Linked DNA regions of Homo sapiens: region 1 is linked to region 2. A link means that fine-mapping ties the variant in region 2 to the expression of a gene that starts in the linked region. Tissue or cell type: macrophages after interferon gamma. Region 2 holds a variant in brackets; the other region holds the start of a gene. All regions are shown on one strand. Distances are from middle to middle.

Region 1 (5,288 bases), 77 kb before region 2:
ACTTTTTAGAAGTAAAATACGCTCGAAAATGGTCTAAATTATGCAAACTTCCCTTCTAGTATTACATTTAAAGATACTTGAAGCCCCACATAATTGAGTTCAATTTGCTAAAGCAAATGAGGTCTAACCTCTTGAAGATTTCCTGAAGTATTAAAATAATCAACACTTAAAATCAAAAGAAGATACAACAATCTAAAGTCATATATAATGCAATAGAGAATTTACTAAATTATGTATTAACCATAGTACAAGATAATGAGCAAGATATATTATTCTCAGCCCCCTAACCAATGTACAAATTTGCATCAACTTGATATTATATATTAAATTAATGAAGTTATGGACTTTAATTTCTTCTGTGTCTAAAACTGGAAGAGGGAAGAAAGCATTTCCTAACATTCTATCATAAAAGAAAAATGTTAAGAGAAACTTTCCTTTAAAACCATGCTTCATATGTCCCCTTCGGTGTCTTGATAAAATGTTATCATACAGGAAAACATAAGCTTCTAAATCAAAGATTTCCTTCAATGTTTTCAATTTGCATAGATCACAATATAACACACACATTATTTGAAACATTTTTTGACTTCAGACAAATGCCTCAAGATTAATCATATTAAGCTATATTTGTCATCATTACTGCTTCTTTATTTAAAAAAAAAAAGGAAATAAAGCAAGCAATACATAGCATTCAATTCCCTTGATAAGTTAAAATCATTTCCCCCTTCTATCCCCAAATGAACTTTATTCTATTCCATTTAGCCAAAGGTACACAGCCAACACATCTTTGTGTTATACTGTGGCAAATCAGGGTTTAGATACCAATGCAACTATTATCAATGGCTCAGAACCAAACATTGTTAACAAAACACACTGAGTGGATCCTCCCTCTGCGTGTGTGTCTACATGTGCCCATTCATAACATGACCCTCCTACACACACAGAAACTCAATTTCTACTGAATTACAAAACATCTTCACATTATTAGAAGTGTATAATAAAACTGTCCTCTTTAATGTTCAAAGAAAGAATAATTTCTAAAGCGATGAGAGAGAAGAGTTAATACCAGGATTGCTGCTACCCATCAACTTTAATTCAAAGCAAAGTACAACTCAATGTCATTTTTACCTCTACTGTAGCCTCGACGGATACAAAATTAACTTCGCTGTAGAATAAAGTATCCTGGCATCCCAATGGATTATTTACTTCTCCGATTTGACAGAACATATACGTGAGTCTTTTGTCCCTCCCACAGCATCCCAGGGTGTCAACATCATCTCTGCCACAGCAAATGACGAGCAAATCCCTCAGATCATTACTTCAGCACCCTAAGTACAAGAAAGTCGCGGCCTTCACTGTCGTTACAACACAGCAAACAGATTCAGTAGTCCCATGTTCCTTTCCATGATAGTTGGGGAGGCGGGGTGGGAAATAAGCGCTCAGATTTCCTAGGAATCCTTCGTGTTCGGTGCTGGTACCAGAAGTGGCATGGGTACAAGTGATATGTGGGTCACCCACAGAGAGAGACGCAGAACGAAGCTTCGTGACCCTCCAAGTTCAGTGAAGACACCCAAAGCCTGGGGCAAAACGAGGCGGCAGCCTTCGGGGAAATCGGGCAGAACCAGAACGATCTCCGAGATGGAGAGTGACGGGGTCTGGCACGAGCCCCGGGCTTGCAGCGAACTGAAAGTCCCCGGTACCCCTCCCCTCCTCAGCAGGCTCGGTCACTCGGCGAGGGGTGCGGCCGGAGGAGGGGGTCGAGACTGGGGGAGGGCGGCGCCCTGGGGGGTCGGGGGGTGTGTCCTACCTGGGCCGTGGCGGACGCAGGGGTTTCTGGAGGAGGGCTCTGGTCCAGCTCAGGACCGGGACCGGCGGGGGTTAACCCTCGGCAGGCGGGACCGCCACTGCCTGCCCATCCCCCACCGCCGACTGCGGCGGGACCCGAGCGCGGCTTCCAGGGCCGGCCGGCTGGGTAGTCCCCTGGGGTACCGTCCGCGTTTACTGGCGGCGGCGGCGGCGGCTGCTGCTGCTGTTACTGCTGCTGCCGGCTCCCCCAAGCCGCTGCTCTTGTGCCAGCACCTGCTCCCCCTCCTGCCGCCGCCGCCGCCTCGTCCCCACCGCTCCCATCGCCGCTGCGGCGACTACTGCAGAGCCCGCTGACCCGACCCGACGTTATTCTCCCCCCTCGTAACCCGACACAGCCTAGCCCACCTGCCCTGCCAGCGCGCACGCCCACCTCTCCGCTACAGGTGCTGATTGGAGAGTGCGTTCCGAACTCGCAGCGTCGGTTGGCTAGTCCCATTGCCTATCACGAAGGGGGCGGAGAGTCGGGCAGAAACCGTCTCCGCCCCCCACCGGAGAATTGCCGCTATCTTCAGGTTTGCCTGAGAGGGCGAGTTACCGGGAAAGGAGCATCACAATGGCAGCGCGCATGCGCCTAGGAATTCTGGGCCTCGTAGTTCCAGCCATAGCCGCAACTCCCCGCCTGTCCCGAGGAGAGAAGTAGGGCTTCCGAGACAAGTAGTTTGCGCACATAGGTGTTCTCCTAGCGTGACAGTTAAATTGGTTATAGAGGGATGGTTGGGACCCCATGGTTGGGCTTTTCGGAATAAAATCGGAAATGCTTTGTCACGATACGAAATTACACACTGAGGCAGTCGCGATGAAGGGCCCAAATCGTGAGGCCCTGCAAGCCTTAAGGATCCATCCTCTTCCTCAGCATCAGCGCTGACAGCATCCCGCAAATTGGCGCCGTCCCCAGAACCGCCTAACGTGAAGCTAATCATCTTTGGGGGACTGGGGAAGGGCCTTAGGTGTGACGAGGAAAGGAGATGGGCACTTCCATAAACGAATGTCAACTTGGAGACCGGAGTGTCCTTACGGTTTCACAACCCAAGAACAAGATTTCATTCCCTTTGTGAAACACCACCAGCTAAAGACTCAATGGCCAGCCCCGGTGCACACCAGTATGCGATGCTGAGCAAGTGTATGCGGGAGGTGCTCAAAGACTTTCAAAGAAAAGCGAGGAGGGCGGAGCAAGGACGCTGTGCAGGATGCGTTTCTATTTAGTGTTGTGTCAGTCGCTTTGGCGAAGGAAAACCTTAAGATTAAGCACCTCTCCCATCTTTGCCCACCAGTGTACAGTAGAGAAAACACATGAAAAACGCTAAACAGCTTTCCTAAGGCTATAAACTAATCAGTGGCAAAACCAAAACTCAGGTCTCTCATACGCCCCACATCTAATGTCCTTTCTACTTAAGAATCACAATGATCCCCAGGGTTCTGCCATGAATGGAAAGAATGTAATGAATTATGAACTTCATTTTTACTTTAAATCCTTTTCTTCACTCAAGTGACATTGTCATTAAAGCTGATTAAGAATATAGAAAGGTAAATGACTAATCCTATATTCAATCTTGGAACTGTTCCTATAGAATCTGTTTCTTCTTGCTCAGGAAGTGCCACAGCCTCTTGCCATTCTTTTTAAAAACAGCAGGCATCTCTACTCTCTGTCATGTCCAGATCCTTGGATTGAAAGCAGGACAAAATGTACATTAAAGGCAAGTGATGATGCAGCTCATCTTGTTCTATGCAAACATAAAGATGTTGCCAAATTGTTTTTTATTTCTACTGATTAAAACCACACGTTACTTTTTCTATTACTATGTCTAATAGAGTACTTCATTCATTTCAGAGTATTGACCAATCACATAATTTGAATAAGAAAACATTAGGGTTTCTGTAAATATTTTTCTTTAAAATTAAAGAAGTTTATAGGGGCCAGGCACAGTGGCTAATGCCTGCAATCCCAGCACTTTGAGAGGCTGATGTGGGAGGATCACTTCAGTCCAGGAGTTCAAGACCAAACTGGGCAATGTAAGGAGACATAAGGAGACTCCTTCTGCACACACACACACACACACACAAAATGATCACGGAAGCATGGATTTAAAATTTTTTTTAATTAGCCGGGCATGGTGGCATGCCCCTGTAGTCTCAGCTATTCGGGAGGCTGAGGCAGGAGGATCGGTTGAGCCCAGGAGTTCAAGACCAGCCTGGGCAACATAACAAGACCTTGTCTCTACACACAAAAAATTTTTAGTTAGCCAGCCCTGTCTCTACTAAAAATACAAAAATTAGCCAGGTGTGGTGGCATGCACCTGTAGTCCCAGCCACTTGGGAGGCTGAGGCAGGAGGATTGCTTGAGCCCTGGATGTCAAGGCTGCAGTGAGCTATTATCGCATCACTGCACTCCAGTCTGGGCAACAGAGATACCCTGTCTTTAAAAAAGAAAAAAAAAAAGTTTCTAGGGAAAAAATGTCCAGATTCATTGAAATTAGGCTTAGCAATAAAAGCCTCCCCTTTTCTCCAGTCTTTTCCATTTTAGAATTATTGAGCTGTCCCCAGAGATACTCTTTCAGTCAGGCTAAATGTCAATGTAATATGTTATTCAAGAGCTGGTACTGGAGTTTAGGAATCCCCTTTGAGTTATAGATATAGATAGATCTCAAGTATATATATAAAACTCAAATATATATGCATGTATCTCTTTTAAGAAATAAACTGAGCATAGTGGCTCACACTTGTAATCCCAGCACTTTGGGAGGCCAAGGCAGGAGGATCTGTTGAGCCCTGGAGTTGGAGACCAGCCCTAGCAACATAGTGAGACTCTGTCTCTACAAAAAATATATATTTTTAATTAGCTGGCCCCTGTAGTCCCAGCTACCCAGGAGGCTGAGGTGGGAGGATTGCTTGAGCCCAGGAGGTCGAGGCTGCAGTGAGCTATGATTGCATCACTGCACTCCAGCCTGGGTGACAACGCAAGACTCTGTCTCTAATACATAAATGTGGTAGCCAGACTTCCAGATGGCCCCCAATGATCCCTACCTCACTTACTCTCATTCTTATTTATTCCTTTCCATACTGAATTGGACTGACCTGTGTAACCAATAGGATTTTCCAGAAATTATGGTGTGGGAATATCAAGGCCAGGTTATAACAGACATTGTAGCTTCTGCCTTATGTGTTCTTGGATCACTTATTTAGGGAGAAGCCAGTTGTCTTCTCCTGAAGATACTCTAGCAGTTCCATGCAGTGTTCCCCTGGCAAGGAACTGAAGCATCACATCAATAATCAGCACCAGTTTGCCGTCTATGTTAGTGAGCCATTCTTAGAAATGAATCCTCCAGCCCCAGTCAAGCCTTCAGATGACTGAAAGCCCAGCTGGCTTCTTAACCACCACCTTGTGAGACACTCCAAGCCAGAACTACCCAGCTAAGCCACTTCTA
Region 2 (5,288 bases):
CAACAGATTGTTATCTCATTAGCACTTGTGGTAAAGGTTTTGTTATAAAATGAAGGAGGAGGGGAAACTGACAGGACGTTGCCAGACTCATTCATTGCTGACTGTTGTCTTCCATCATTCTGTGTTTCTACATGACCAAGTCCAAATTCTTACAAACCTCCACAACTGCCCCATATTCTCCACTGTTCCCCACTGTGTACTCTCAACTAAGGTAGGCCAGGCTTTTTCAATGTCTCTGAAAATGCCATGCTCACAGTTCCCTAAAAACATTTCTGTTTTCCACCTGGGTTCTCCTTTATCCCTACCACACATCCAAATTTTATACAAGGTCAAATCGAATCTCATTTTTTCCATGACATCTTCCCTTACTACTTCAGCCCCTACTGATCAATTCCTTCTTAAAAATCCTATGAGTCCTATTGTTTTATACTATAAAATCTGGCTGTTAATGCTATTTCCTCTTGTATCATTCTTAACTGCGTAACATGCACACATATGAGGTCAACGAGGCAGGGAACATAAAACTTTGTATGATAACTTAGGCTGGGCACACTGGCTCATGCCTGTAATCCTGGTACTCTGGGAGGCTGAGGTAGGAGGATTGCTTGAGTCCAGGAGTTTGAGACCAGTCTGGGCAACACAGCGAGACCTTGTCTCTACAAAAAATTTAAAAATTAGCTGGGTGTGGTGGTGTAAGCCTGTGGTTCCAGCTACTTGGGAGGCTGAGGTGGGAGGATCACTTGTGCCCAGGAAGTTGAAGCTGCAGTGAGCTGTACTCCAGCCTGGGTGATGAGCGAGACCTGTCTAAACAAACAAACAAAAAAACAACAAACCCCCCCAACAAAACAAACAAAAAACCTTTGTAACTTAGACTATGGTGATGAGAAATAAAACCATCACCGCTATTTCTTCCTCTGTAGCTTTTGTATACATCCTTCATTTTCCTTAAAAGTACGTAACTGAAAGGACATAATTAAATCACAACAGAGGGTAAAATAATCAGGGAAAATGTGGATAAATACAGAAAGATATGAATTGTAGAAATAAGACATAAATATTTTGAGTAGAATACCTAGAAATATTCTTGAATATTTTCTAGGTATGGTTTTCATCAATTTTAGATCCAAAGAGGGGATGAGAAGATAATTTTTTAAATACTGGACTTTGCCTTCACCCTACTGATTTCACTGCCTAAACCAGGGGTCCTCAACCCCAGGGCCATGGACGAGTACCAGTCTATGGCCTGTTGGGAACCTTGGGAATGGGCTGCACAGCAGGAGGTGAGCAGCAGGTGAGCAAAGCTGCATCGGAATTTACAGCCGCTTCCCATCACTTGCATTGTCGCGTGAGCTCCGCCTCCTGCCAGATCAGCAGCCACATTAGATTCTCATAGGAGCGCAAACTCTACTATGAACTGCCCATGTGAGGAATCTAGGTTGCCCACTCCTTATGAAAATCTAATGACTGACAATCTGTCACTGTCTCCCATGACCCCCAGATGGGACCATCTAGTCGCAGGAAAACAAGCTTAGGGCTCCCACTGATTCTACATTATGGTGAGTTATATAATTATTTCGTTATATATTACAATGTAATAATAATAGAAATAAAATGCACAATAAATGTAATGCACTTGAATCATCCCAAAACCATCCCCCTCATCCGAGGAAAAACTGTCTTCCATAAAACCGGTCCTTGGTGCCAAAAAGGTTGGGGACCATTGGCCTAAACAAAAGACAACTTTTCCTCACTGTATTTTAAAAATTCCCACTTTATCCTTTTAAGCACATCTCCATTAATAGCCATACTTGTCTCACAACTGTAAAGAATATGTAAATAAGATGATAGTTTTAAAATGTTTTTGTTATTACAAACATTACTAACCACACATTAATAGTATTAGTAATAGTAATGGCTAACATGTAGCACTTACTATGTACCATGGACTATTCTACTTTACATATAATAACTCTGCTAATCCTTCAACCAATAAAATAGGTACTATTATAATATTATTATCCCCGATTTGCAAATAAGAAGTTGAGGCACACAGAGCTTAAGTAACTTGCCCAAGATCACATAATCAGTAAGTGGATCTTAGTGATTTAGATGAATCTTGGATCTAAGATTTAAATCTAAGCAGTTTGACTGCTTGGAATAATCAGATAGATGGACTTGATAGTATAATCACTGTCTGTATTGTCTCCTAGTATGAAAAACGATTAAATTTAATAAAGCAATTTAAGCCACTTATTTTTAGCTTCAAAAACTTCTATTTCCTGATATTCAAGAAATCTGTACTTGCAAACCATATTTTAGCCCAATAATTATTTAAAAAAATAAAGATTCTGACACCATCTTCACATAGCTAATATAAAATAAATTTAAGCAAACCTTTAGCATGTCTTATATTATAACCTGATATTCTGGCCAGAACAGTCTGTATCCACCGTGCCAGGGTCAAAAGTTGAGCAAGAGCATCTGCATTCTCACTGAAAAATGATATTTAAAAATTATTACAACCATGGGTACAAAGTCAAATGGAAAAGCTGAATTTGTATTATTTCCTTGGATAAATGGTCATATAAAAAAGTTGAGTTCCTCCAGATTAATTTCCTAGGTCACAGAAACATGTGTCTAAAAATGTAGCTTTTTGGAAGGGGAAGGAAATTTTAAACTTACAAGAAATAAGTCACCACCCACATGCCAATCACCCACAGGTAGTAAATGTCAGTAAATAGAATCACCATTCTAGTTGCTCCAGTCAAAAACTAGGTGTTGTCATTGATTTCTCTGATTCCCTCACACCCCACATTCTAATCTATTAATTAACCTTGCAGGTTTTATCTTTCAAATATATCCCAAGTTCATCACTTCTTCCTACCTCTCATTACTACCCCCTAATCCAAGTCACATCAGCCCTCACTTGGATTACTTAAATAGACTCCTAAGTGTTCTTCCTGCTTCTACTCTTGTGTTTCATTTAAGTATGAATTCATCATACAGCAGCTAGAAGAATTTTCTAAAAATGTAAATAGGATCATATAACTTCTAATCTTTGCTCATAATCCCTTTTATGATCTGGTCTTTGCTTGCTCCATTCCATGTTGCCTTCTTGTTGTGACTCAAACATGATCATGGGGTTCCAAACTTGGAGCCTTTG[C/CT]TTTTTTTTTTTTTTTTTTGAGATGGAGTCTCACTCTGTCGCCAGGCTGGAATGCAGTAGCACAATCTTGGCTCACTGCAACCAACCTCTGCCTCCTGGGTTCAAGCGATTCTCCTGCCTCAGCCTCCCGAGTTGCTGGGATTACAAGTGCCTGCCACCACGCCCAGCTAATTTTTGTATTTTTAGCAGAGACAAGGTTTCACCATGTTGGCCAGGCTGGTCTCGATCTCTTGACCTCGTGATCCGCCCGCCTCAGCCTCCCAAAGTGCTGGGATTACAGGCGTGGGCCACCACACCCAACCGAGCCTTTGCTCTTGATATAGCCTGTGCTTAGAATTTTTTTCTCCCAGAGAAAAGCAGTGATTATTCCTCACTTTATTCAGGTCTCTGTTCAAATGTCACCATCTCAGAGAAGAGCTCCCTGACAACTCTGTCTATAAATAGCCTCATGCCCCAGTCTGTCTTCAGCCCTTTAACCTACTGCTTTAGCTTTCTCATAGTATTCCTCACTACTCAACATTTTGTTTTATTTTTTTATTGCCAGTCTCTCCTTCCTAAAATGGACGTAAGGACAGGGACTTGAGACAGACTGTTATTAAGAACAAAGAAGGGCTGGGTGCAGTGGCTCAGGCCTGTAGTCCAGTACTTTGAGAGGCTGAGGTGAGTGGGTCGCTTGAGCCCAGGAGTTAGAGAACAGCCTGGGAAACATAGTGAAACCCTGTCTCTACAAAAAATACAAAAATTAGTGGGGTGTGGTGACACATGCCTGTGGTCCCAGCTACTTGGGAGGCTGAGGTGGAAGGATCATCTGAGCCCAAGAAGGTTGAGGCTGAAATGAGCTAAGATCACACCACTGCACTCCAGCACACAGTGAGACCCTATCTAAAAAAAAAAACCAAGAAGGACTAGAAACAGTGTTATTAAAAATAAAATAGGAATCTTTTTATTGAAAGAATAGTCTTGAGCAAAGGTAAAATATATAATGAACTGTGCCAAAATTTACCTATCTGGGCACAAATTTGACCTAAGAAGTTTTTTTTGTTTTCAAAAAATGGAAATGTACTATGACTGGTTATAACCAATTTTCTTTACAGATACCAGTTTATTAGTTTTAAATTTTTTCGTAAGTTTGTATTATACATTTTTAATCAAAATCTTAGTTTTGACAGTTTTTATATGCTTTTATCTTTACTATCTTAGATTATATTCATGCTGATTTCCTAAAATCCAAAAAAGGCAAATATAATCAACTATATGGGTAAGTCGAAGTATCTAATAAAACTGCTATGTATAATCATGTATTTCAGATCCTGAGTAACAGAATTGTTACTATAGATTAAAAGTGTGCCAGAGTTCTAAGAGACCTTTAACTAGTTCTAAGAGTTTTAAGGATCAGTTTTCTGAATTTAGAAAGAACTGCTCTGAAGCATCTGATCCTTAAAGTCATCAAGGAAAGAAGTAGCTAAATATTCTGTTAGAGAACAATTTACATAGTTTAATAATCCTATTTTGGGGGAGCCACTGTGTAAAAAAGGCTTGTACAAGAAATTGGAAAGTCACTTTATTATGATTTCCTTTATCTTTGTCTTCTGCTGTATAGTTAGGTAAGGCTTTGGAGTCAGGTCTGGGTTTGAATATTAGGTCTGTCTTGGGACAAGTAAAAACTATCCCTAGTCTCCAATTCCTTATCTTTAAATGGAAATAACAGTACCTACTTCAATGGACTACTGTGATAATTAAATAAGATAATGCAGCATTTGCTTGGTAAAATGCCTAAAATATATTAATTACTCAAATCAAAGATAATTCTTTCTCATGTTACCACATACGTTGAAGAAGACAATTTCAATTTAGGTTTATCAATGACATGGAATATTAGAGATTAGAACAACTCTTTATTTATTTATTTATTTTTGACACAGAGTGTAGCTCTGTCGCCCAGGCTGGAGTGCAATGGTATGGTCTCGGCTCACTGCAACCTCCACCTCCCGGGTTCAAGCAATTTTCGTGCCTCAGCCTCCTGAGTAGCTGGGATTACACGCATGTGCCACCATGCCAGGCTAATTTTTGTATTCTTAGTAGAGATGGGTTTTTGCCATATTGGCCAGGCTGGTCTCAAACTCCT

Direction of the effects. Alleles are on the strand shown, and positions count from the first base shown. SD is a standard deviation of normalised expression in the study named.
For the expression in macrophages after interferon gamma of the gene that starts at base 2,148 in region 1, allele CT in region 2 goes with a higher level than allele C (large effect, 0.93 SD a copy in Alasoo 2018).

The links. PIP is the estimated chance that this variant, and not a neighbour inherited with it, causes the effect.
Region 1: it holds the start of TTBK2, and the variant in region 2 is fine-mapped to the expression of TTBK2 in macrophages after interferon gamma (Alasoo 2018, PIP 0.95).

What each region holds. Positions count from the first base shown.
Region 1 is chr15:42,918,631-42,923,918 of GRCh38, forward strand. It overlaps TTBK2 (tau tubulin kinase 2), which reads right to left and starts at 2,148. Exons shown (of 15, transcript NM_173500.4): 1 at 1,808-2,148. RefSeq lists enhancers at 1,466-1,966, 1,967-2,467, 2,670-2,769 and a silencer at 1,740-2,149.
Region 2 is chr15:42,995,774-43,001,061 of GRCh38, forward strand. It overlaps UBR1 (ubiquitin protein ligase E3 component n-recognin 1), which reads right to left. Exons shown (of 47, transcript NM_174916.3): 33 at 2,395-2,492. Among named protein-coding and RNA genes, the nearest start is that of TTBK2, 78 kb to the left of the region's middle. The variant C/CT (reference allele first, on the strand shown) is at 3,164.